3 linked regions of the Homo sapiens genome follow. The protein of the gene in region 2 purifies or fractionates together with the protein of the main gene of each other region. This does not show direct contact. Each region holds a gene or a part of one and is shown on either strand. Other genes may lie near its edges.

Region 1 (7,306 bases), on a different chromosome or scaffold from region 2:
ACCAATGTAGGAGTGAGGGTGTTACAATAAAGTGAAAACCAAAAATAGGCCCCATAACAGAAAACACTTCTCCCAGCATAGCAGGTTGTAAGTGCTGGAGACTGCTTAGCTTATCGGCATGTAAGAAATGCAAAAATAAATCCTTTCCAATAGGAAAGGTATCCTCAACAAAGGCCTCATCACAGGACAATCTCAGGAATAAGAGCACTGCTTGCACCTCCTTGCCGCAGACTTGCCTGTCGCCCCTGCCTTTGGTTATGTTCACCAGCTTCTCTATGCCTCCTGAGTCGGCCAGGGCTTTTGCGTTCTCCATGTTTTTGCTGGTGACCTCGTGCAGAGCACAGCAGATGGCTGCCATGGTCTCATCAGACAAGACACTGGGGCCATTGCCGCCGGGGAGCCGGTTGACCAGGTCTCGCATGGCGTATTTGCCTGCCAACGGCAAAAGAGTAAATTCTACTTCCAGAAGGTACTAGGTTTTTGTTATTGTTGTTCAGATTCTGGTGGCATGCAATCTCTTAAAAATAAAACCCCCAAAGAGACAATAATAGGGGAAAAAATCAAAACCCATGGCAAAGAAGAAAAGGACAAATGTCATTATAAGGGGAAAGCTAACATTTATTGCAACGTCACTTGCAGAAATGATTCATTTATAAAACATTACTGTCAATTGCTGAAAGCAAATGTAAATCAATGCGTAAAATTGGGTAGACAAATCAAGTTACTTTCGTTCGAGTATTTTCAGTAACATTGAGTAATGAAGGAATTATAATAGTAAATTTTATTCTCAATGGAATTCCTATGCATCACAAATACCTCAATTTCCTCTTAGAGCTTTTTAAAACTTACCTTTGAATCTGGACCAAGTCAGGCTGCCAAACAATACTTTTCGTTAGATCTTTCTGGATCTTAATGTATGAACTGGGTACAGTTACACATTTTTGTGTATAGAGCTGAGGTGTACAGCAACTCATCTGACAACGGTGGCAACATGTTAGTTTCTTTAAAAGATGACACAAGTAAAAGTTCTGGTATTAAAATTATAGGTATGTTATCTCCCAGGAATAATGCAATAATAATGAAATTCTTGCTAAGACAAGGCAAGGGGAGTTTCACAGTTATTGAGGTATTTCTTTATAGATACTGAATTTTTCTTATTCCTCTCCAAAAAGAGATTACCTCTAGCTTTTTCAACTTCGATTACCAACTGACAAACTGTAAGTGCACTACAAACAAAAGAAATGAACTAAAGTGCAAGTAAACATCTTCTTAGTTCTCCCCTATGCTAATAATTGAGTGGATGTGCAATCGCTTTTTATAAAGGCCTGTTTATTTACAGTGGTAAGCAGAAGAAGACAGGTCTCAGCTACATGCTGTGTGATGTACAGCACGTCAGAGGGAAGGCTCTGGCTTGCTCACGACAAACACTGCTATGAAGAGTGGAAAAACAGTGCTGACACTGTAAGGCCACAAGATAAATGTGGTTTTCAGAGCAGATGATAAGTTAGCTCTGGTGATTTTGAATACTCATGAATGACCAAAAGGCCCATGACATGTAATTTGTCATTTTGCTAAGGCATAACTTTAAATTGCACTCCTGGGGGTTAGGCCGAGGCAGCTCACTCTGCCTATGAATGAGTGAGCCTGGCGGTCCCCTCAGAACTTGCAGCTCCAGACAGCAGGGTGGGTCCCACTCAGTTGAGTATGTAGTAACTTTTATGAAGTGATAAAACTTTGCTTCTTTGTGAAAAATGGCTCTGAAAAGAAAGTCCTTTGCTAGTGCTGATGATGAATGTGAAAAAAGAGGGAAGAGGTCAGAGAAGGGGAAGGTTCCTAGGAACTGAAGTACTGGGTAAATTAGAGCCAAATACTGAATCCAAGAGTGAGGCAGATCTCACAGGAAGACGGGAATAGGGAAACAAAAAAACAGACTGATGGAACAGTTCAAGAGTGCTCCAGCCAGGTTAAAAAAAAAAAAAAAAAGCTCATCACTGGAGAGGCAGAAGGCCAGTGGAAGTTAAAAAGGGTTATTCACAGAAAACACAGAAATGCACTGAGAGGAAGCCAAGACTTGGAACACACATTCCTCTTGCCAAAGGTCTTAGCACTTCACAGTACCAGCTCAAGGACTCCTGTCTACCTGTGTCTTTGCGTTGTGAAATATGACAGGCCACAGGATATACGTGTCAACCATTTATTTTTTAGCATTAAAAATGCCCAAATTATACATGCTTCTTATAAGAAATCCAAACAATACAGACGTAAGAAAAATAACTTTAAAGAATATCTCTCTTTAGGGACCTGAAGGATTTCTGTAAAGGAAGTGTGGGAACTGAGAGATATGGCACATCTACAAGAATCAGGCATGAGCTGGACCATGAACAGGGTGAGGAGGAACTTCCTTTCCTCTCCGTAGGGGGATGATTTGGCTTAAAGGAATGGTGTGTTAAGAGCAGGTTAATCTGGGCAACAATTCAAAATAGCAATTCTGTCAGGCACTGTGTGAAGGGCTTCCATTGTAAGTCATCACGTTTAATCCTTACAGCAATTCTTTATGGTAAACATCATCGCCCTTGTTTCTCTCTCCTTCTCTCATGGCAGGTGTATTTTAAGTTTACTATAGATTCACATGAATCCACATAAGATCTTGTCCCATTTCCCCTCCTTCTCCCCTGACCTGTCACCAGCTGTGGGACTTGGCATGGAGCTCTCTCATTTCCTCTTTACAGCAAACCCAGTTAGGACAGCAGGCATCAACAGCTCCCCTTCAGAGATGAGGAGTTGCCTTTCATTTCCAATCTAGATAGAATTACGGAGCCTGAACGGGGTTATATAGGATACCCCAGGTTGCATGGCCAGTGAGCAGCACATCCTGGGAACGAAGCTCAGGTTTATGGGGGTCCCTGATGTCTTCTTTAGCCCGCATCCTGCCTAGGATGTGGCAATGCCGCAGAGGCAAGCAAGCTGCCTGGGGTGCGGAGCGTACAGAGGTCCTCACTGTTTGGTTTGTGCATGTGCCAACCCTACCTTGTACAAACCTGAGAGTAAAGGCCTCCTAAAATGTTGTGCCTTTGGCGCCTTGCTTAGCTCACCCTAGTCCTGCCCCTGCCCAGGGTGGAAATGATGTTGGGACAGTGGTTCTTCTCTGGGATAAAGATTTATACCAATGTGAGAGGGGAAAGCTACAAAACATTCATGTGATTTTTTATTTAGAGTATGGTAGTGTTGGTGAATTAGCAGGTAGCAGTCCAAAAATTGGAAAGGGAGATTAAGATTTTTTGTTGCTCAGGATATAGAGAACTCTCTTAGAAATGAGAGACATTAACCCTACTAGTGTTGTAAGGTACAACTAAAATTGCTGGCCTTTCTGAAAATTTACCTTCCCTAATCAATGACTAATTAATGAGCTTGCCTCCTGCTGAAAAAGAATGGTCACAAAACAGGAGTACTCAAATATGCCAAGAAACTGGAGACTAGGGCTCAGCTGTTAATGATTTTACAAGCCATATATTTATTAATCAAAAGAAGAGTTTCATGAATTTTGTAGCTGCTCTCACATTTACAGCTCATCTTGTCACCAGAACATACCTATGAGCTCCTTGTTGCGAACATCTAGTGCCATATTCCTCAAGGCTGTTGCCACGGAAGAAACAACTCTATCGTTATCCATTCTCAGAAGCTCCACAAGGATGGGGAGCCCCTTTTCTTTTCGGACGGCCGCCCGGATATATGCTGCAAACTAGTGAGAAAAATAAGGCAGGAAGTAACATAAAACAGAGTTCCAGTCTCATATGTTACTGTCACCTAAAAAAGATGTTTCCAAAAGATGAACTAATAGATTAAATGGTTTCTTTCCAATTGAAGATCAAATCTGTGGTGTCAGTGAAGAGAAAACCAAAGTTGGGGAGAAAGATAGGCTGGAATGACTGATTTAAAAAGAAATCCCAAAGCCTGAAAATCTCAAACCACCATCTGCCAGATATTTTTGTGCAGAAAAGAGAAGGCAGTGATTACTTTCTATCTCAGATACATAAACATGATTAAGGAAGGATCGTGTGTTTTCTTTGCAGTTGGTCCCCTGCCAAACCCAGAGGCTATAAATAGGATGGCAGAGACAGTAACCCATCAGCACACATGAAAGGAGAACCTGTCTCCATCAAGTCATTTTTTTTCTATATTCCCTGCAACAATATTTCGAGTTCAGAAACCTGTCAAAGAGATTAGTTGGAAAAATCCCTTGCCTCAGAAGAAAGGGAAATCTCCAGAAACATCCAGCATCATAATTCATACAGCCTGGTGAAAAAGTAAGTATATTTGTGTGCAAAATGCATTCTCACTCAAGATTAGTTAGCTGCTGATGCTGTTTTTTAAAAATCCATAGTCAAGAAATTTTTCTGTGACTATGAAGCAACTCTGTACTGTGAGTCAGTTTGTATATCTTATAAAATGGAAATGAGCGCTAAGTCATCAGTGAAACAACCAAAAAGAGTAACGTTAGAAAACGGTTCTTTAATCTTGTTTCCAGCTTTGAGCTTTAATTGACTTTTTCAACCAATGCAAATCATCTTTCAAATTTTAGGGTAATTGAAAGATGCTGCTCATAAAACATATACTTTCCTGCTGTGACCAAGACAGTAGGACAGAGATCTACCAGCCCTTTGTATTATTTCGAACATTAAAATATGTGATTGACCATCCAGTTTCTTGAATACCAACAGAATATTTTAATAATACAAATAAGAGGGAAAGATGCATTTCAAAGATCCTATTTATATTCTGCATATGAAATGCATACTCCTATTTTTCAAATCACATGAAATCTATGGGGGGAAAATGAAGTACATGACTGGTTACTAGGCAAAGCACTCAGGCAGTTTTATGAACTTCTCTCTGAAACCTGCAACAACAGAACCATCTCCTTCTGTCTCACTTGGAGACCTACCAGCCCAGCCCAGCCCAGCCCGTCTCCCTTCTGGAGAACTACAGTCATCACTGCTCCTGAAATAGCTTCTTACTTGATAACATCTGTGGCCACGATTATCTCATTTTCTTAGTGAAGGTCCAATATTTTAACTCACTATTGAAATCGCTTAGATATAATGTTTATATTTTAAATGAGCTTTGCCATCTAACTCTCTCACTAAATGATCCCAGACATGAACTTCTAAATAAGTCAAATCACATCGATTTCAATTACTGTCTTTTATTATCATCAAATGATCCTCTGGTCACAGAAGCTGAAGGTGAACGCTGTTCTACAACATAAATGTTTATAAATACTTATGTGCTGGGAGTATCTCACTAAATCCTCATAACCACTTTATAAGGCAGGTATTAATATTCACTTTATTTTAGGGAGGTGGAAACTGTGGGCAGAGCCCCTAGGCTGCCAGACGGTAAGCAGAGTGGCCTGGATTCAGAGCCAGCACTTACACACTCAGTCACTGGCACTTTAACTAGGAGCCACAACAAAATAACCACACCGGCTTAGCACTAGACCATAGTTATCGCTCTATATTCAACATAGTGGCCACGTGCACGAAACAAACCATACCTAGGCTTATCAATGCTTTTCACTATCTTGAAAACACCATCACCAAAAGATTCTCATTTTGGGGGGTTAAGGTGGGGGAAGAAGCCCACAGCAAGCATTGTAGTAACTCTACTAAAATACACCTGTCAAGAAATTACTAGAGGTTGAAAATGTCTCAGACAAGGACTGTCTGGGAAGTTGCTGGGGGACATTTAGAAAGTTCTGAGAACTTGCTTACAGTGGTAACAAAAGGAAACTGTCTTCAGTTTTCATACTCATACATTTGCAAAAAGATGCAGAAACCTTAGACACAGGCATGTCTGTAACGGTCTGAGAGGAACAGAGGTCCTCTATCCCTCCCCACAGTGCTGCCCAACCTGTGTTCTGTCCTGCCACTCAAGATTTCTCACCTTTGTATTGCTGCACTGGCTCCCAAATCCAATCCCTGCTTCTAACTCTCCCTTCCTCGAATCCACCTTTTGCACTGCCATGGAAGTGGGGGAGCAGTGATGATATTAGCCCGTCTCTGTCACTCATCTGCCCAGACTCTTTCGGTAGTCCCTCCTGTGTGTAGGTTAGGATTCAGCTCCTGAAGTTTGGCCTTCAGGCCTATCCATGATGCCTGGCTCCATGGTGGGCCCCAGTGGGCAGCCAGTAGTCCTGGCCCACACGTCTTCTCTGCACCACAAGACTGTCCTCCTCCTGTTGTCCCTGTTATCTGGATGGCTCCTTCCATACCACAGCCTCAGCCTCTACAGGCTTACTTTCACTCATCTTCAGAGATTCTGCCGGGCAGCATCCCCTTCAGGAAATCTCCTCCACGTCCTTACTCCGCTCTTTTCCTGACCTTCCCTTACACTGTGTGGCTGGGTTAGATGTCTTCTTTCAGGACCCCACAGCACATACATCCTGTGGCTTCTACACTGTGCTGGCACCATCTGTTTTTCTCACTAGCCTTCTGTTTCTCATAGTGAGGGACTTGTATTTATCTTTGTATCCCCAGAGCAACTGCTTGTCTCCCTTTTTTCCCTTTAACCCCTTCACACACAAGCTAAGTAGCTGTGACCCTTTCACCATCAGGGCTGATCTGACTGAGGCAGAACATATATATATAACATTTCAAGTTAGTTTGCAAAGATGGAAAGAAGTGTAGATAAGTGGAAGTCATCCTACCTTCCAGTTGCCAGCAGAGAGGTTCTGGAGAGACCCTGCAGAGCCTTCCAAGGTGGCTGGGTTGGAACTTTCTGCTAGAAGAGTCAGATATGGTTTTACCACCGATGGGTGCCACAGCATCTCAACCCCTTTGGGGGACTTCGACAGTCCTGGGATAGGACCAACTCCATCCCACTGAAAGACAAACAGCACACGTTAAATGGAGGCAGAATGAACATGATCTCCAATACTTGAAAACATTCACCTTTGCGGGACTCAGCTATAGCTATGCAGAAAATTTATTTTCTTGCCAAATATGTGATTCCTCACTCCCAGAAAAATTAAACTTGAGAGTCTCATATAAAATAAAATGCTAACTTGATCTTCTTGCGGAGTCCTCTTTTTCTTTTTCTTCTTCTTCCCCCAGCAACTTGGCTCAGAGTCTTTGCTGGGAGACTCTTTTCCTAGTAAGTCATCCAATTCGTTCAGTCCCAGTAACCGGGCCTGGGGCACCTCCAGCTCCAGCCGATAGGACAGGTTCCTCAGGGTGCACACGCAGTTCTCCACCGTCTGAAACCCAGCATGGCGTATAATTAAAAACAACTCGGCACATTAGAGCAA
Region 2 (7,211 bases):
TGTCTCAAAAAAGGAAAAAAAAAGGTGAGGACGGAAGGTAGTGTGTGGCTCAAGTTCAGCCACCACCAAATGCACACTGTCCTGGTCTCACCTGAACATCCCAAGAGCCGCACAAAGTAGGAGGGATTGTGCCCACGTTCAGATGAAAAACCCGAGGCTCACAGAGGGGAAGGGACTGGCTCCTGGCCTCACTGGCAGGAAGCAGAGGAGGGAAAATTGGGAGGAAGTCTAAGCTTCAGGGTTGGGTGAGTCCTTAAGTCCATGTCTCAATATATCATCCCAACAAGTCCATGAAACCATATCATCTGGGGAAACAAATTGGACACGCCACTTAAACAAATTAAACGGGCTCTTTCCTGCCGGACTTGTCAGAGCCTTTAGCCCCTTCACGTTTCCCAAATCTCTTTGACCAGGACCAAGACCAAGGCCTGGGACAACTGGCAGGCCCTGGGTCCCAAAGGCCGAGAGAGAGGGCACGATGGAGGTGAAGGTGTCTACAGCGTTTGTACGCGTGTACTCCGGCCATCTGTGCACAGAACAGATGACCGTGTGTACATATGCACCTGTGTTTCTCCATCACTCCATCTGGGGCTCAAATGACATCTGTAAAAAGCAGAACAGGCATCCAAAGGCCAGGACACGCGCCCAAAGACCAGGGTCTGGCCCTTCCCGGCTTCCCCTGCAGGAGATAAAGTCCAAGACTGCCTTCACTGCCCCTCAAGTCAGATTCCACAAGGATTTATTGGCACCGGACCTAGCCTGGTGCCCGCCCCTTCAAGGAAAGACACTAACAAGGAGGAGTGCCGGCACCGCAAGAGCCCTCCCAGAAGCGCCCAGACTGGGGGTCGGGGAGGACGCTGCCATTCGTGGCCAGGAAGGGAAGGGAGATTCCGGAGGAGGGTGGGCACGGCGCAGGGAAAGGCCGGGTGGTGGGATGGGCAGGGAGGCGGGGTACCGGCCCCGCTAGAAGGGGAACTCGCAGACGTAGTAGAGACGCCGCTGGCAGTCGTGGTCCCACCAGGAGCCGTCGTCAGAGGCCTGCGCCACGCAGTTCTCGAGCGTGCCACCGTTGGGCTGGTCCGGGCTGAGCGGATGCGGCGAGGCGCTGGGCTGGGCGCCGAGCTCGGGGCGGGGTGAGCGATGCCAGGCGAAGAAGGACACGCGCTGGCCGTTTTCGAAGAGGTAGAGGCCCTCGGCGCGCCGATCGTGCACGCCCAGCCACACGGGCCAGTTGTAGGGAGCGAGCGCCGCGCGCAGGTACCGAGTGAGCGCCTCCATCTGCTGGCGGTCTGCCGGCTGCGCCAGGCTCCCGCCCCGCGCCGTGCACCGCGCCTGCGCCGCCGCCTGAGCTTCGAAGTCGCGCGAGAGCAGGAAGCACTTGTGGCCCAGGCGCAGCCCCTTCAGGCAGCCTGTGGGCGGGGCCGGGTAGAGAAGGAGGCGGGGTCATGCATTCAGAGTCTGGAAGGGGGCGAGGACAAAACATCCGGGGGTGGAGGGAGGCGGGGCCAGGAACTCATGGGGAGGGCTGGGAGGAGGCGTGGTCAGAACCGCGGGAGCCAGGAGGTGGAGAGTCTGGTCCGCCAGGGGCGGGGCCAGGCGGTGGGAGCTGGACTGTAGGGGGCGTGGTGCTGCCCCAGTCGGGTCCGCGCGGGTCTGGAGTGCCCACCCGCTCCCTGCATTCAGCCTCCCAGCTCTCTAACCCCGTCCGCTAGCACACAGCAGCTCTCCCGAACTCTCCCGCCCCGGACACCTAGGGTCACCTTCTCAACCAGTCCCATTCCTGGCCCAGATAGTCTCATTTTTTTCCACCCCGCGCGCCGCGGACTCACCCTCCAAGCGGCCGTGCTCGCGCTCGGCGCGACCCTGCGCCTCCTGCAGGGCTTGCACGGCATCGCGGGTGTCGCCTGCCGCGTTCCGCAGCTGCCGCAGCCCCTGGGTCAGCTCGACCACGCGGGTGTCCAACGCGTGCAGACGGACGTGCAGCTGGTGCAGGCCTGCGTCCAGGCCGGCCAGGCGGCCCACTGCGGACAGACAGGGATCATGCTGGAGGGGGAGCCTGGAGATGCAGCGGGGGGCCTGAGGACCTGGAGAACTGGGATCTAGGGCTCCTGAGGGCGGGGTGGCGGTGGGGGGGGCACCCCGGACTCCTGGAAGGTAGGGTCGAGTGGCCCAGGCCTTTAGGAGGCATGGCCGTGGACCTGGGGCTCCTAGGGGTGTGGGGGCTCTGGGCTGGGCAATGGACAACTGAAAGGCCACTTGGCAGTGAACCGACCCTTCATTTTTGCGAAAGTGACCGCGGCGGCCTAGGAGTTTGGGGGTGAGGGCTTCTGGTTACTCACGGATGTAAGTGACGATGTCCTCAGGGGTGGGAGAGGGGCTGGGGCCGGAGGATGGGGTTGGCGTTGCTTCCTCCTCCTCTTCCTCCCCCTGGTCCTCCTCCATCTCCCAGTCCTCTTTTCCCTCAACAGTTCCGGCAGGATTCTCATCCCCCCTCCCAGCAGGCAGTCCTAGGGCTTCCTGCAGATGCTGGGGCAGGGGAGGGGTGGTGAGCCCCAGCCTGCCACCAAGATGCCCCATTCACCCCTTTCCAACTCATAACTCATTCTCTGCTGCCTGAGTCCTGTCTCTGAGCCCATCACCCTCCCACTCCTCTGAGACTATCCCAATCGCTCCTCATTGTCCATTTCCCTAACCTTGCAATACCCCCTCCCAGACCCACAGTTCACCACCCATAGCTCCCTGACACTCCAGAGCTCACCTTCAGCATCAGGGCCTCCCTCTCCCGCTCCTCCTCCTGGGCACCTCCCCAGCCTCCCTCCCACTCCCTCTCTGCTCCCCGAGCCCCATGGCCAAAGCCCAAGAGCTGGGGGACCACCAAAGCCCCCAAAAGCCAGGCTGCCTGCATTAAGCTGGACTCTTGGCACCCAAAGTTCCAGATGTCTGGATGTCTGGGGTGGGAGGGGTGGCCTCTGGGAACTGCCGAGTGCCCCTGCCCTGTGTGCAGGTCACTAGCCCCCAGGTTCCCGATTCTCCCAGCTTCTCTCTTCCTGTTCCTCTCCTCGTCTCTGTCCGGTCCGTTGGTCTCCTCTGCTTCTCTGTGTGTGTCTCTCCCCGCCCCTCTTGGCTCCCCGGAGGCCCTGCCTCTGTGGCCGGAAACCTCCAACGTTCCAAAGCCTAGATCCCGCCTTGGGTCTCCTCGCACACCCTCCTCTTTCCACTTTCCAGAGCTCGCTTCCGCCCTGCTCTTTCCTTCTGCTGTAGCCCAAAGATCAGATAATCAGGAAGAGGATGGAGCTGGCTCTCCAAGGAATCTTGGAAAACACAGGCCCCGGCCTCAGCCCAGGAACCCGCTCAGAACCATCTCGGCAGTGGTGGGATGCTGGGACCGAGCACTGCTCCCTTCTTCCCTGCCTGGCCATTCCTAAGGAGGGGCAGACCTCAGGGTCTCGCTGAGGTTGTTATTACCCTGTGGCCACCATCGCCTGCACACTCAATGGAGGAGACTCCAGGGCCCCTCCTGCCCCCTAGATTGCCCATCCTACCCTCCAAGCCCTTGTCTGGAGATCCAAGTGAGTGTGTGTGGGGGCAGGGTGACACATGTGAAGAGCACGCGTGTGACTGTGTGCATGACCCTGGAAGACGGGGCTCGGGGATTAATTGGCCACTTTACTAGAAGCCTCCTGCAGGCCAGGCTGTGGGCTGGGTGATGCTGGGGACTCCAGCTGCTTGCAGACCAGCAGCCAGATAGCTCCGGGGATGAGGGGGCTGGAGATGGGAGAGGGTGAGGAGTCTGGCGGAGCAGTCAGGGAAGGTTTCTCCAGGAGGTGAAATCGACAGACGCTAGGTTGTGTGCTCAAGGAGCTCTGAGCATTCAGCAAGCCACCTCATTTCAGCCTGGACCACTGCAGTCTCGCCCTCCCCCTCCTTCCTCCTGAGCCCCTCCAATCCCGGCTGCTTGCCGCAGCCAAAGCAATCCTTCCAAACCATAAATCAGATCACATCACTCCCCACTCCCCTGCTCCCCCACCTTCCCATCATAAGCAGGAGGGAAGCCAAGCCCGGGCCTCAGTCCTCAGCGCAGCCTACCATGCTGGGGGCTGGGAAGGAAGAACCCTTTGCACCTCTGCAGCCTCATCACCCCCATTCCCTTCACCCACCCCCAGCCTCCACCTTCCCTGGCCTCTTGGCTCATCCCCAAATACTAAGCTGATTACAACCTCAGAGCATTTGCACTAGCCCTTTCCTCCTTCTAGAAGCCTCTTTCCCCAGCTCCTTCTCATCATCGAGGTCTCAGCTCCAGGAGGTCTTCCCCAACCACCTTATCTATTCCGCAAGTTACTTTATTAAAATGCCCCATTTCATCTTTTTGGTATAATCAAGACTGGCATGATCTTGTTTGTTTATGTCTGTTCCCTGCCAATGAAAGCAGGGATTTTTATGCACTGATGCATCTCCTAGCACAAGGCCTACCTAGCACATAGTAGGTGTTCAATCAACCTGTTGAGTGGGCGAGAGGGTAGCCGTTCCTGGTGGGGTCAAAGGCCTGGAAGCTTCACCTCTTTGGTTTGCTGGCACCCAAGTTCCCAGGGTGGTGGTGGCAGGGTAGGTAGAGGTGGTGAGGGCAGTGGGAGAGAGGCTTGGAGGCAAGGAAGAACAATGCCATGCCATGCCCCTCTATGTCAGGCCCATGAGTCATGCAGGGCTTTTCCCGCCCAGGCCTGGCTGGTGGTGCCAACAAGCATGGGGCACACCAGCCAAGGATCACTGGGCCTGCTCTTCAAAGGAGGAGACCGAGGCTCTGAAACAGCATAGCCTGCTGGAGGTCACCAGTGTGGCGGCAGCTAGCCAAGGTTTCTGGCTCCAAGAGCAGGGCATCTGCCCTCGGCTGCCGGGAGCCCCAGGAGGGGCCTTGGAAATCAGTGCCTCCAGCCTTCCGTTTTCCAAGAAATCCTGGTACATCGAGGGCACTGTGACCTTGGGCAGACTGCTCCCTGCCTCAGAGCCTGGGCCTCTCAGGTGCCCATCGGGAACCTGGGGCCCCTCACCAGGAGCTACAGACCTCAAGAAATAATGCGTATGTGGGGAAAGGCCTTGTAAAGTGTGCAGGGGTGCACAGCCTCTCTGGCTGCTGGAGCCAACATGGGCAGCTGTGCTTTCCCCGGGCCCAGCTGCTCACCACCTGGGCTAGTGGGTACGCATCAAGATAGAGGCCTCCCCAGGCTGAGCAGGCACCTCCTCCAGCTCATACTCGGGTACCCCGGAGAGCCTGCAGCTGGAGGGGAACCCAGAAGCTGCCTAGAACTGCCCCCTGCAGGCCCTGGAGGTGCTGTTGGAGCTGGGAGAATGAGGAAGCCTGGGCTAAGGGGACACTCACCACTCACTGCTGCCCTGTGGGATCTGCTCTGTCCCTGTGGGTGCGTCCCAGGCATGAATGAGCTGTCTGCCTGCAGCTGGCTGCATATGCGTGCCTACACAGACATGTGCAAACTCTGAGGAGACGGTTGGGTGTGTCTGTGTGTGATGAATAAGGATATGCAACTATGAGGGGATATGCCCAGTAGTGCACCATAGTTGTCAAGTGAGGACTTTGGAGCCAGCCTACCTGTTCCTGATCCTTGTTACCACCTCCTTACAGCTGGATGACCTTGGGCAAGTTACTTAGCCTCTCTGTTCCTTGGTTTCCCCCTCTGGAAAATGGGGATGGCGAAAGTCCCTGAGCCTGGCACACAGAAAGTGCTCCAGGAATGTCAGCAGTAACTATCCTGGAGGGGAAGGATGGCACGGTGTTGGGCATGTAAACGGGTGAGTGCGAGCCAGTGCAATGGACAGCACGGTGGGTGGGTGTGATGGGAAGGCGTGCACACGTCTCTACAGTGCTGTAACTCCGTTTTGGTGTTGAGAGATCTGGGCATGCATACCGGGGTGAACGCCTGTGTGCGTGTGTGCGCGCGCACGTGCGTGTGTGGTGGGCAAATGTGTGCATGTGCTGCGTGTGTGCCCGGGCACAGGGGTGTGACAACTGCATGTAGCTGGGTGTGTTTGTAGCTGTGTACCCCAGGTGCATTGTGTCTGGGCATGCATGCGCTGGAGAGTGTGTGTATGTGGGGACTCTGCAGGTGCCGTTACAGCTGGTGACTATGCACCTGTGCCTTGGGGAAATGTGGCCTGGCCCAGGTATGTCCACGTGTGCCCTGACCCAGTGCTTAAATGGAAAGGGTGTGTGTGTGTTTGGGGGGACAGGGTGGGAATCTATAGCCTTCACACTTAAATTTGGGGGTGTAGAGTCTGGCAACAAATATTTATTGTGCCCCACTCTGTGTAGGGCGGCGGGGAGCTCTCTGGGAGGGGGTGGTCCTGAGGTGTGTGTGGGGGGGCACCTTATGGGGGCAGGACCCCTTCCTCGGGGTATGGGAGCAAGCAGGGGCGGAGTCAGGATTTGGGGACTCGGAGGTGGGGAGGAGTGGTGGGGGAGGGCAAGGGTAGGGGGCGGAGCCGGCGGTGGTGGGGGATGGGCGAGGTTTGGGGGCGCGGGGAGGGGCGATGTCTCCTCCGCCGGCTCCCGGAGGGAGGGGAGAGGGCGGAGGGAGGGGAGGGAGGGAGAGAGGGAGGGAGAGAGACAGGGTGAGGGAGAGACAGCGAGAGCGAGAGAGCGAGAAGGGTGGCAGAGGAGGCGCGGAGCGGGCGGCGGCGGCGGCGGCCCGAGGAAGAGGAGGAGGAAGAGCAGGCGGAGACGCGGCGCCCGGAGCCGGCCGGACCGAGCCGGGGGCGGGCGAGGAGGGGCGCGGCGGCCGCGGCGGAAGGGGGGGCGCTCTGCGGATGGCCAGGCCCGGCCCGCGGGGGGGGTGAGGTCCTCGGCCCTCCCGCCCTCCCCCCCGGTCCCCGCCCGCCCCCTCCCCGGGCCCGCTCGCCCTCCGGGGCGGTGGGGCATGGCCTGAGGGTCCCCGTCTCCGGGGGGGTGGGGGGTGGGGGGAGGGGGGAGGGGCCGCGGGCGCCGCCGACCGGGACTCAGCAGCCCCGCCAGGCAGGTAAGGGGGTCGAGAACCTGGGGGTTTGGGGCAGCTGCGGGGCCGGGGCCGCGGGAGGGGGCGAGGGCGCCCCGGATGTCCTTGGCCCGGCGCCGGGCTCCTGGCCTGGGTGTGCGGCTGGGGGTACGGGTGAGGTGGGGAGCGTTGCCCTGGGCGACACCAAATTGGGTTACGCCCGGGTCCCCG
Region 3 (7,738 bases), on a different chromosome or scaffold from region 2:
TTGCTGGATGCTTTGTCCCCATAGTGGTGACAGTAGGGGAAGGGAGGCTGGGCACCCACCTCCAGGCTTGCTGAGGTTTGGAGGCTTTAGTGCATGTGCTTATTTGGCTGGTTTTGTGAGCCGTGTGTTTTGTGTGGTTGGTCAGGAGCCATGATTTTGGCCTCAGTTGTCCAGGCATCCACTTTTCAACCACCATGGAGATTGAGTGCTTACTTTGTGCCAAGCTCTCTTCTCTGCTTGGGGATCCCAGCTGGAGAGACACCACAGTGCTCCCCACCCAATTTTCGCAGGTAGAAACTCTTAGGCACCAAAAGGCTAGCTCTGCTGGTTGGAGACAGAACCAGAACTAAAACCTCGGAACATGGTTGTTTTTTTTTTTGTTTTTTTTTTTTTTGAGATGGAGTCCTGTTTTGTCGCCAAGCTGGAGTGCAGTGGCGATCTTGGCTCACTGCAACCTCCAACTCTTGGGTTCAAGCGATTCTCCTGCCTCAGCCTCCCGAGCGATTACAGGTGCCCGCCACCACGCCTGGCTAGTTTTTGTATTTTTGGTAGAGACAGGGTTTCACCGTGTTGGCCAGGATGGTCTTGATCTCCTGACCTCGTGGTCCTCCCGCCTTGGCTTCCCAAAGTGCTGGGATTACAGGCGTGAGCCACTGCGTCTGGCCTGTGTTTGTTTTATTGACTGTAGTGGCCCTTCTCTGCCCAGTTCAACAGCATGGCCCCAGAGCCTGGCACAGTGAGCACCAGAGTGCAGGTGCCCAGTGAATGAACGGACGAACTTTGATTCCCAGGGCTCTCCTCTGGGCTAAGCACTTTGCAGGGATGGATGACTGCATGCCATTCTCTCCATGAGGATGGTCAGGGAGGTAGGAGATGGCTGAGCTGGATTTGAAGCCAGGTCTCTTCTCTCCCAAGACTCCTAGCTTGCCTTTTTTTTTTTTTTTTTTTTTTTTGAGACAGAGTCTTGCTCTGTCGCCCAGGCTGGAGTGCAGTGGTGTGATCTCAGCTCAGTGCAAGCTCTGCCTCCCAGGTTCATGCCATTGTCCTGCCTCAGCCTCCCGAGTAGCTGGGACTATAGGCGCCCGCCACCACGCCTGGCTAATTTTTTGTATTTTTAGTAGAGATGGGGTTTCACCATGTTAGCCAGGATGGTCTCGATCTCTTGACCTCGTGACCCACCTGCCTCGGCCTCCCAAAGTGCTGGGATTACAGGCGTGAGCCACTGTGCCCTAGCTTTTTTTTTTTTTTTTTTTTTTTGATACAGAGTCTCGCTCTGTCGCCCAGGCTATAGTGCAATGGTGCAATCTCGGCTCACTGCAACCTCCACCTCCCAGGTTCAAGCAGTTCTCCTGCCTCAGCTTCTTGAGTAGCTGGGATTACAGGCACATACCACCAGGCCTGGCTAATTTTTGTATTTTTAGTAGAGACAGGGTTTCACCATGTTGGTCAGGCTGGTCTCGAACGCCTGACCAAGTGATCTGCCCACCTCAGCCTCCCAAAGTCCTGGGATTACAGGCTTGAGCCACTGTGTCTGGCCCTAGCTTGCCTTTTAACCCTTCCCTCGCTGTGTTGCCTTCAGCAAGTCTCCAAGGTTGTACTAGTTTTCTATTGCTACATTACCACACATTTAGTGGCTTATGTAACTTTGTTATCTTAAAGTTCTGGAGGTCACGGTGGTTGGCAGGGCTCATTTTCTTCTGGAGGCTTTAGGGGAGAATCCATTCCTTGTCCTTTGTAGCTTCTAGAGGCAGCCTGCATTTCTGGGCGTGAGGTCCTGCGTCATTCCTTTGTCAGTCAATATGATGAACTCCGCTTCATCAACCACATCTTCTCCGACTCCGACCCTCCTTCCTTCCTCTTGTGAGGACCCTTGTGATTCCACCTGCCCAACCAAATAATCCAGGATTCATCTCTGCATCTCAAGATCCTTAACTTCATCCCATCTACAGAATCCCTTTTGCCAGAGAAGGTACCATTTTCACAGATTTCAGGGATCAGGACTTGGACATCTTTGGTGGGGGGCATTGTATTGCCTCCACAAAGTCTACTTTTCTTCTCTGTTGGATGGGCACACTAGTGTCTGTTTTATGGGTATGTCGTGAGGATTACCTGAGTGACTCTATAGGGAGTGTTTAGCACAGTGGCTGTCACATAGTAAGTGCTCAGTAAACCACCCTGTTACTGTTCAGCCTCCTCCTATCATTTTGTTTTGAGACAGAGTCTCTCTCTGTTGCCCAGGCTGGAGTGAAGTGGCGTGCTCTTGGCTCACTGCAACCTCCACCTCCTGGGTTCAAGTGATTCTTGTGCCTCAGCCTCCCGAGTAGCTGGGATTACAGGACCCCACCACCATGCCCGGCTAATTTTTGTATTTTTAGTAGAGACGGGGTTTCACCATGTTGGCCAGACTGGTCTCAAACTCCTGACCTCAGGTGATCTGCCTGCCTCGGCCTCCCAAAGTGGTGGGATTACAGGGGTGAGCCACCACGCTTGGCCTTACAAATAAAGAATCTGAGGCTTCAGATAGTTTATTTCTTTTTTGCTTGTTTATTTTCTTTCTTTTTTTTTTTTTGAGATGGAGTCTCACTCTGTCACCCAGGCTGGAGTGCAGTGGCATGATCTCGGCTCAGTGCAACCTCCGCCACCCGGGTTTGAGCAATTCTTCTGCCTCAGCCTCCCAAGTAGCTGGGATTACAGGCGACTGCCACCATGCCTGGCTAATTTTTGTATTTTTAGTAGAGATGGGGTTTCACCATATTGGTCAGGCTGGTCTTGAACTCCTGACCGCATGATCCACCTGCCTCGACCTACCAAAGTGGTGGGATTACAGGTGTTAGCCACTGCGCCAGCCTTACAGATGAAGAACCTGAGGCTCAGTTTATTTATTTAATTTATTTTTTATTTGTTTATTTGCCTTCTATCATTTTTATTAGTTGCTGGGTTTTGAGCACTGGGCCAATTCTATGGCCTTCCTGAAGATGGTCAAGGAACAAAATCGAAAACAAAAATTAGGGTTACATCCTCCCTGTTTTGTAGAGATAGCGAAATATTGAAGACATTGGCAGGGGAATAATGCAGATTTGATGATGTAAAACAGAGTGGCCGGCACTGTAATCCCAACACTTTGGGAGGCCAAGGTAGGTGGATCACTTTAGCGCAGGAGTTCCAGACCAACTTGGCCAACATGGTGAAATCCCATCTCTACCAAAAATACAAAAATTAGCTGGGCATGGTGGCAGATGTCTGTAATCCCAGCTACTCAGGAGGCTGGGGCAGGAGAATCGCTTGAATCTAGGAGTTGGAGGTTGCAGTGAGCAGAGATTGCGGATTGTGCCACTGCACTCCAGCCTGGGGGACAGAGCGAGACTGTCTCAAAAAAAAAAAAAAAGAAAAAAGAAAAAAAGGATAACACTGAAAATGACCATGGATAAAATGTAGGAAAATTCAGAGAATTATAAATAAGGCTATAAAAGTATCCAGAATTCTACTCCCCAAAAACTAAGCTTTGTTCACCAGCCTCAGTTCTGGAGTTAGGCTGAAGTGGGTTAATTTTCCTTCTGGGTCCAGCAGTGTGGCCTGGGGCACATTCTCTCAAAGCCTCCTTTGTCTCACCTGTGAATTAGAACAATAATATCTGCCCCTGGGTTAGGATTAAGTGAGACAAACCACGTGCTTTAGCATAGGGCATGGCCCGCAGCTGGTGCTTAGAGCAACCGTGACTGGAAGAGGGTGGGATGATTTGGGTGCCAGGCCCTAACATTTTTTTTTTGTATTTGCTTTTTGAAATTGCTTTTATAGTTGGTTAGGTGTCTAAAAAAGTAAGAACCCTCCTCCGCTCTCCCAACCTCAAACCACGGAGGTAACCAAGACAGGAGTGCAGTCTCCCGGACCTTTTGTTTTGCAATCACACAAACACACAACACTCAAGAGGAGGGGCTTATTAGTTTTCATTTTGTAAAAATGGGACAAAGTACCCATATTGTGCAACAACCTTGCTTTTGAAATGAAAAAAGTATTATTTCTGCTTCCTTTCCGTTCATATACCGTATACATATTTTAACAAAATCCGGGCTTAGTCTGTTCTGAGGCGCTGCAGTTTTGAAGGGGGAGGGGGCGGAGATCCGGGCTCGCTCCCCCGTCACTGCCCCCTCCATCCCTTCCCCCTCTTTCCGGGCGCCCTTCCCCCGGGCCCAGGCCGGGCCCATGCCCTTCCCAGGCCCCTTCTCTTGGCTCCTGGCCCCTCCTCCGGGTCTCCTCCCCGATCCCCGCTCTGCCCCGTTCTCTCCCGCCTCTCCCGCCGTCCCCGGGCCCCTCCCCACTCCCAGCCCCCTCCCAGCCCCCTCCCGCCGCTCCCCGCCCCTCCCCCCTGGCCCCAGCCCTCGCCCGGCCCCCGGGCCGATCCCAAGGCCGCCGCTCCCGGGAGGCGCGGCAGGGGGCGCTGCGCGGGCCCAGGTTGCGGGCGGCGGCGGGAGGAGGAGGACGAGGAGGCGGGGGCGGCGGCAGGCGGGGGGCGGGGAGCCGAGCGCGAGGGAGCGAGCGGCGAGACAGGCGCCGAGGCTCCACCGCGCAGCGACGAGCGAGCCCGGGAGGAGGGAGGGAGCGAGCGAGCGAGCAGCCCGCGCCGCCGCCTCGCAATCCGCCGCCATCCCGCCGCCCCCGTGCCCGACCGCCGCCCGACTGCCATCGCCCGGCCCGGCCGCGCCCGCGGAACCAGACCAGGTGGGTCGGGGCCGGGGCCGGGGCCGGGGCGTGGGGGCGGCGGCGCTAAGATGGAGGCGGCGCGGCCCGGCCGGGCTTTGTCTCCCGCGGCCGCCGCCGGGGGCCCGGGGGCCCTGCGGCCCTGCCCGACCTTTGTCCGCGAGCGCGGCCGCCGCCGCCTCCTTCCCGCCGGGCGCGGGGCTGCGGGGCTGGGAGGCCGCGGGGCCTGGGGGCGGCGGGCCCGGGCGCGCTCGCCATTGTTGTGGCGGCGCCGCGCGGCCTCAGGCTCGGGCGGGGTCCAGGGGCCGCGCGACTCCCTCAGGGCTCGCCCGCCACCCCCGTACCCCCGAGGCCGGGCCGGGCTGCAGAGGCCGGAGGGGCGGGGGTCCCGGGCCCGCAGCCGGGTCTCGGGGTTCTGGGGCCGGCGTCTTTGCTCCCCGCCCCGCCCAATTGACGGAGCAGCGCGCCCGAGGCGGGATCCTGCGGGGTCGGGCCTTGGGTCCGGGGCGCTGAGCGGCGTTCGCGGGGCCGTTCCTGGCGCGGGGTGGGCCGGGCCCCGGCGGCGCTAAAGTTGGCGGCTGGGGGAGGGAGGCGAGCGGCCGCCCAGTCTCGGTGTGAGTGCGGGAACCAGAGGGTTATTTTCGAAATGCTGAATGCTCCATGCTAAAAATGTTTAATAATAAACAGGATGTCGCCACTCGGGGCCTGCCAGATGGGGTTTTTTTTTTTTTCCTCCTCTTTTGCCTCCCCTCAACCCCCAGGAGAGAAATTCAGCCCTGTTGAAACTGTGGGCCTCTGAAGAGTGGATTTGCCTTAAGAGGTGGATTTTTTTCCTTTTTCTTTTTTCCTCCTTCTAAATATCGTGGGAGGTCGGAGCCCACCTTTAGGCAAGAATTGGAGGTGTTTTCAGTGGTGAGCTTGAAGGAAGTGGGAGAAGGGGGGCTGGGGAGTGTCTTTTGCTAAATGGCTTCCTGGGAGAAATCTTTAAATGCCTTTGGTTTACAGGACTGTTAAACTTTCCCTAAGATTTTTTTTTTCTTTAAGGTTTAGTGTGCATTTGATGTGGCTTTGTACAGTGTCATCCAGTTTGGTTTTTGTAACCAATTGTGTGCGGTCTTAGCATGGTTTTTCCGAATCTCGCTGCAGCCATTTAGTCATGTCTATGCACAGCGCTGTGGTGTAAGGTGGGACTGGGGAGGCCCAGGCATTGGGGTGCAGATCCTGCTTCTTTCTTCCGTAAACCTAGTGACTCTGGGGCTGTCTGAGGCTTCATCTGCATAAATCGGGGCGTGCACCCTCCACCTGGCAGGTTTGGGCAGCGGTGAAGGGCCTAGCAGAGGGCCTGGCACAGTTAGTGGTTCCTCCTACGGTTGTTGGTATAACTGCTGTCAAGTCCTAGGACAGACGTGAGCCCCTTGTGGTGCCACCCATAGAGCCAAACTGTGCCCATGGATGCCACAGGTGCTGGCCTAAGGCATGGACAATACAGAAGGAATTCAAGGCCCAAACATTAGTGGGCGCTTATACAGTGCTGAGCCTCTCGGGAGGCAGGGATGGGAAAAAGTAGCATTTGGAGGTCTCTAGAACTTAGTAGACCCGGAGTGTGTGGCAGTTGGTCAGTTTAAGGCAGGGTTAGAACAGTACGAGATGCTCAGGACAAACAGACGCCCAAGGAGTCCTGCCTTCTGAGGATAACTGCTTTCCTTGGGGATTGGCAGATAATCATCTGAGAGTGAGTTTCTACTTGTTTGGGCAAGTGTGTCTCTTGGAGCCTGCGCAGCTGGATTCTGGTCCTCATCGGGTTACCTTTACAAAGCAAGTCTCTGAGGCTCAGATCTTGCATCTGTAAAATGGGAATAATTATGCCTGCCTTGGGTATCTATTAGGGCTCTTGGGAGCCTCACTTAAGATTCACAGTGAATTGTTTTCTCTCCATAGGAAGGTGATGAAATGTATGTGTTTGTTGATTATCTGTTTTTCTGGTTCCTTTCTCCTTCCTTCCTCCCTTGCCCTCTTCCTCTCTCCCTCCCTCCCTTTCCCTTCCTTTTCCTTCCTTCCCTTCCTTCTTTTTTCTTTTCTTTTCTTTTTTTTTTTTTTTTTTTTGAGACAGTCTCACTCTGTCGCCCAGGCTGGAGTGCAGTGATGTGATCTCAGCTCACTGCAACCTCCGCCTCCTGGGTTCAAGCGATTCTCGTGCCTCAGCCTCTGGAGTAGCTGGGATTACAGGCATGTGCCACCACACCTGGCCAATTTTTGTGTTTTTAGTAGAGACAGGGTTTCACCATGTTGGCCAGGCTAGTCTCAGACATCCGACTTCAGGTGATTTGCCTGCCTTGGCCTCCCAAAGTGCTGGGATTACAGGCCTGAGCTACCGCGCCCGGTCTTCTTTCTCTTAATGCTTATTTTTTCCTCTTCTCTTGGTTGATGGAACTGTGACTTCCCCACCCCAAATTCTATGGCCGGCTAATGTTTTGCTATGGTGACTATCACCCATCTACCTGGAAGCACCAGAATGGCTTAGTACAGCTAGGGAGCTCAGCCAGATCTCGGTGTCTGCTGTTTGAGATTGTGTGGAAGGACTATTGCTAAGAAGCAGGAGACAGACTGAACCCAGTGTTGGCCACAAGTGAGGACTGAGACCCAGGTCACCTCTTGGCTGAACATGTTAGCTTGTTGGTAAATGGCTCTGCAGTGGTTCTGCATTTTATTGGGGAATTTGTTTTGGTTCATTTTGGCATTCCCGCAACCATCTTGTTGGTTTTTTGGTAAAATGTGGCACCCCCTCCAGACCTCCTAGCTGTGGAACTGAGATATTTTAGCAGGGTCCTGTCATCCTTTGATTTTTCCTCGCTTCCTGCCTCTTGGCCCTTCCTTTTTGTCTGACTTCACTCGGGCCCAGTCTGGCTCTATACTGTTAACTGGTTAGTTAGGCCAGGAGATAGTCGCTGCCTCTCCCATGAGCTTCTGCATACCTGTGAATTTTGGTTATCTGTGGCCCCCTAATGCTGATTGCATGCCCTTGCCTTAGGCCCTAAGCCCACTG

Evidence for each region. Proteins that work in one complex are often made in the same cells at the same time.
Region 1: the proteins of CLEC11A (region 2) and PKP4 purify together in Homo sapiens (affinity purification with mass spectrometry; 4 studies listed by BioGRID and IntAct, with this or other methods). This does not show direct contact.
Region 3: the proteins of CLEC11A (region 2) and PRRC2B purify together in Homo sapiens (affinity purification with mass spectrometry; 4 studies listed by BioGRID and IntAct, with this or other methods). This does not show direct contact.

The regions. Positions count from the first base shown.
Region 1 is NC_000002.12:158,662,846-158,670,151, reverse strand, and holds part of PKP4 (plakophilin-4), read right to left. Parts: intron 7,256-7,306; coding exon 7,064-7,255; intron 6,881-7,063; coding exon 6,707-6,880; intron 4,305-6,706; exon of another isoform or gene 4,071-4,304; intron 3,740-4,070; coding exon 3,589-3,739; coding exon of another isoform or gene 3,575-3,588; exon of another isoform or gene 3,488-3,574; intron 433-3,487; coding exon 237-432; intron 1-236. UniProt on the Homo sapiens protein: Plays a role as a regulator of Rho activity during cytokinesis. May play a role in junctional plaques.
Region 2 is NC_000019.10:50,719,220-50,726,430, reverse strand, and holds CLEC11A (C-type lectin domain family 11 member A precursor), read right to left. Parts: upstream 3,068-7,211; 5' UTR 2,906-3,067; coding exon 2,759-2,905; intron 2,527-2,758; coding exon 2,340-2,526; intron 2,022-2,339; coding exon 1,830-2,021; intron 1,410-1,829; coding exon 964-1,409; 3' UTR 723-963; downstream 1-722. UniProt on the Homo sapiens protein: Promotes osteogenesis by stimulating the differentiation of mesenchymal progenitors into mature osteoblasts. Important for repair and maintenance of adult bone.
Region 3 is NC_000009.12:131,389,548-131,397,285, forward strand, and holds the start of PRRC2B (protein PRRC2B), read left to right. Parts: upstream 1-4,538; 5' UTR 4,539-4,716; intron 4,717-7,738.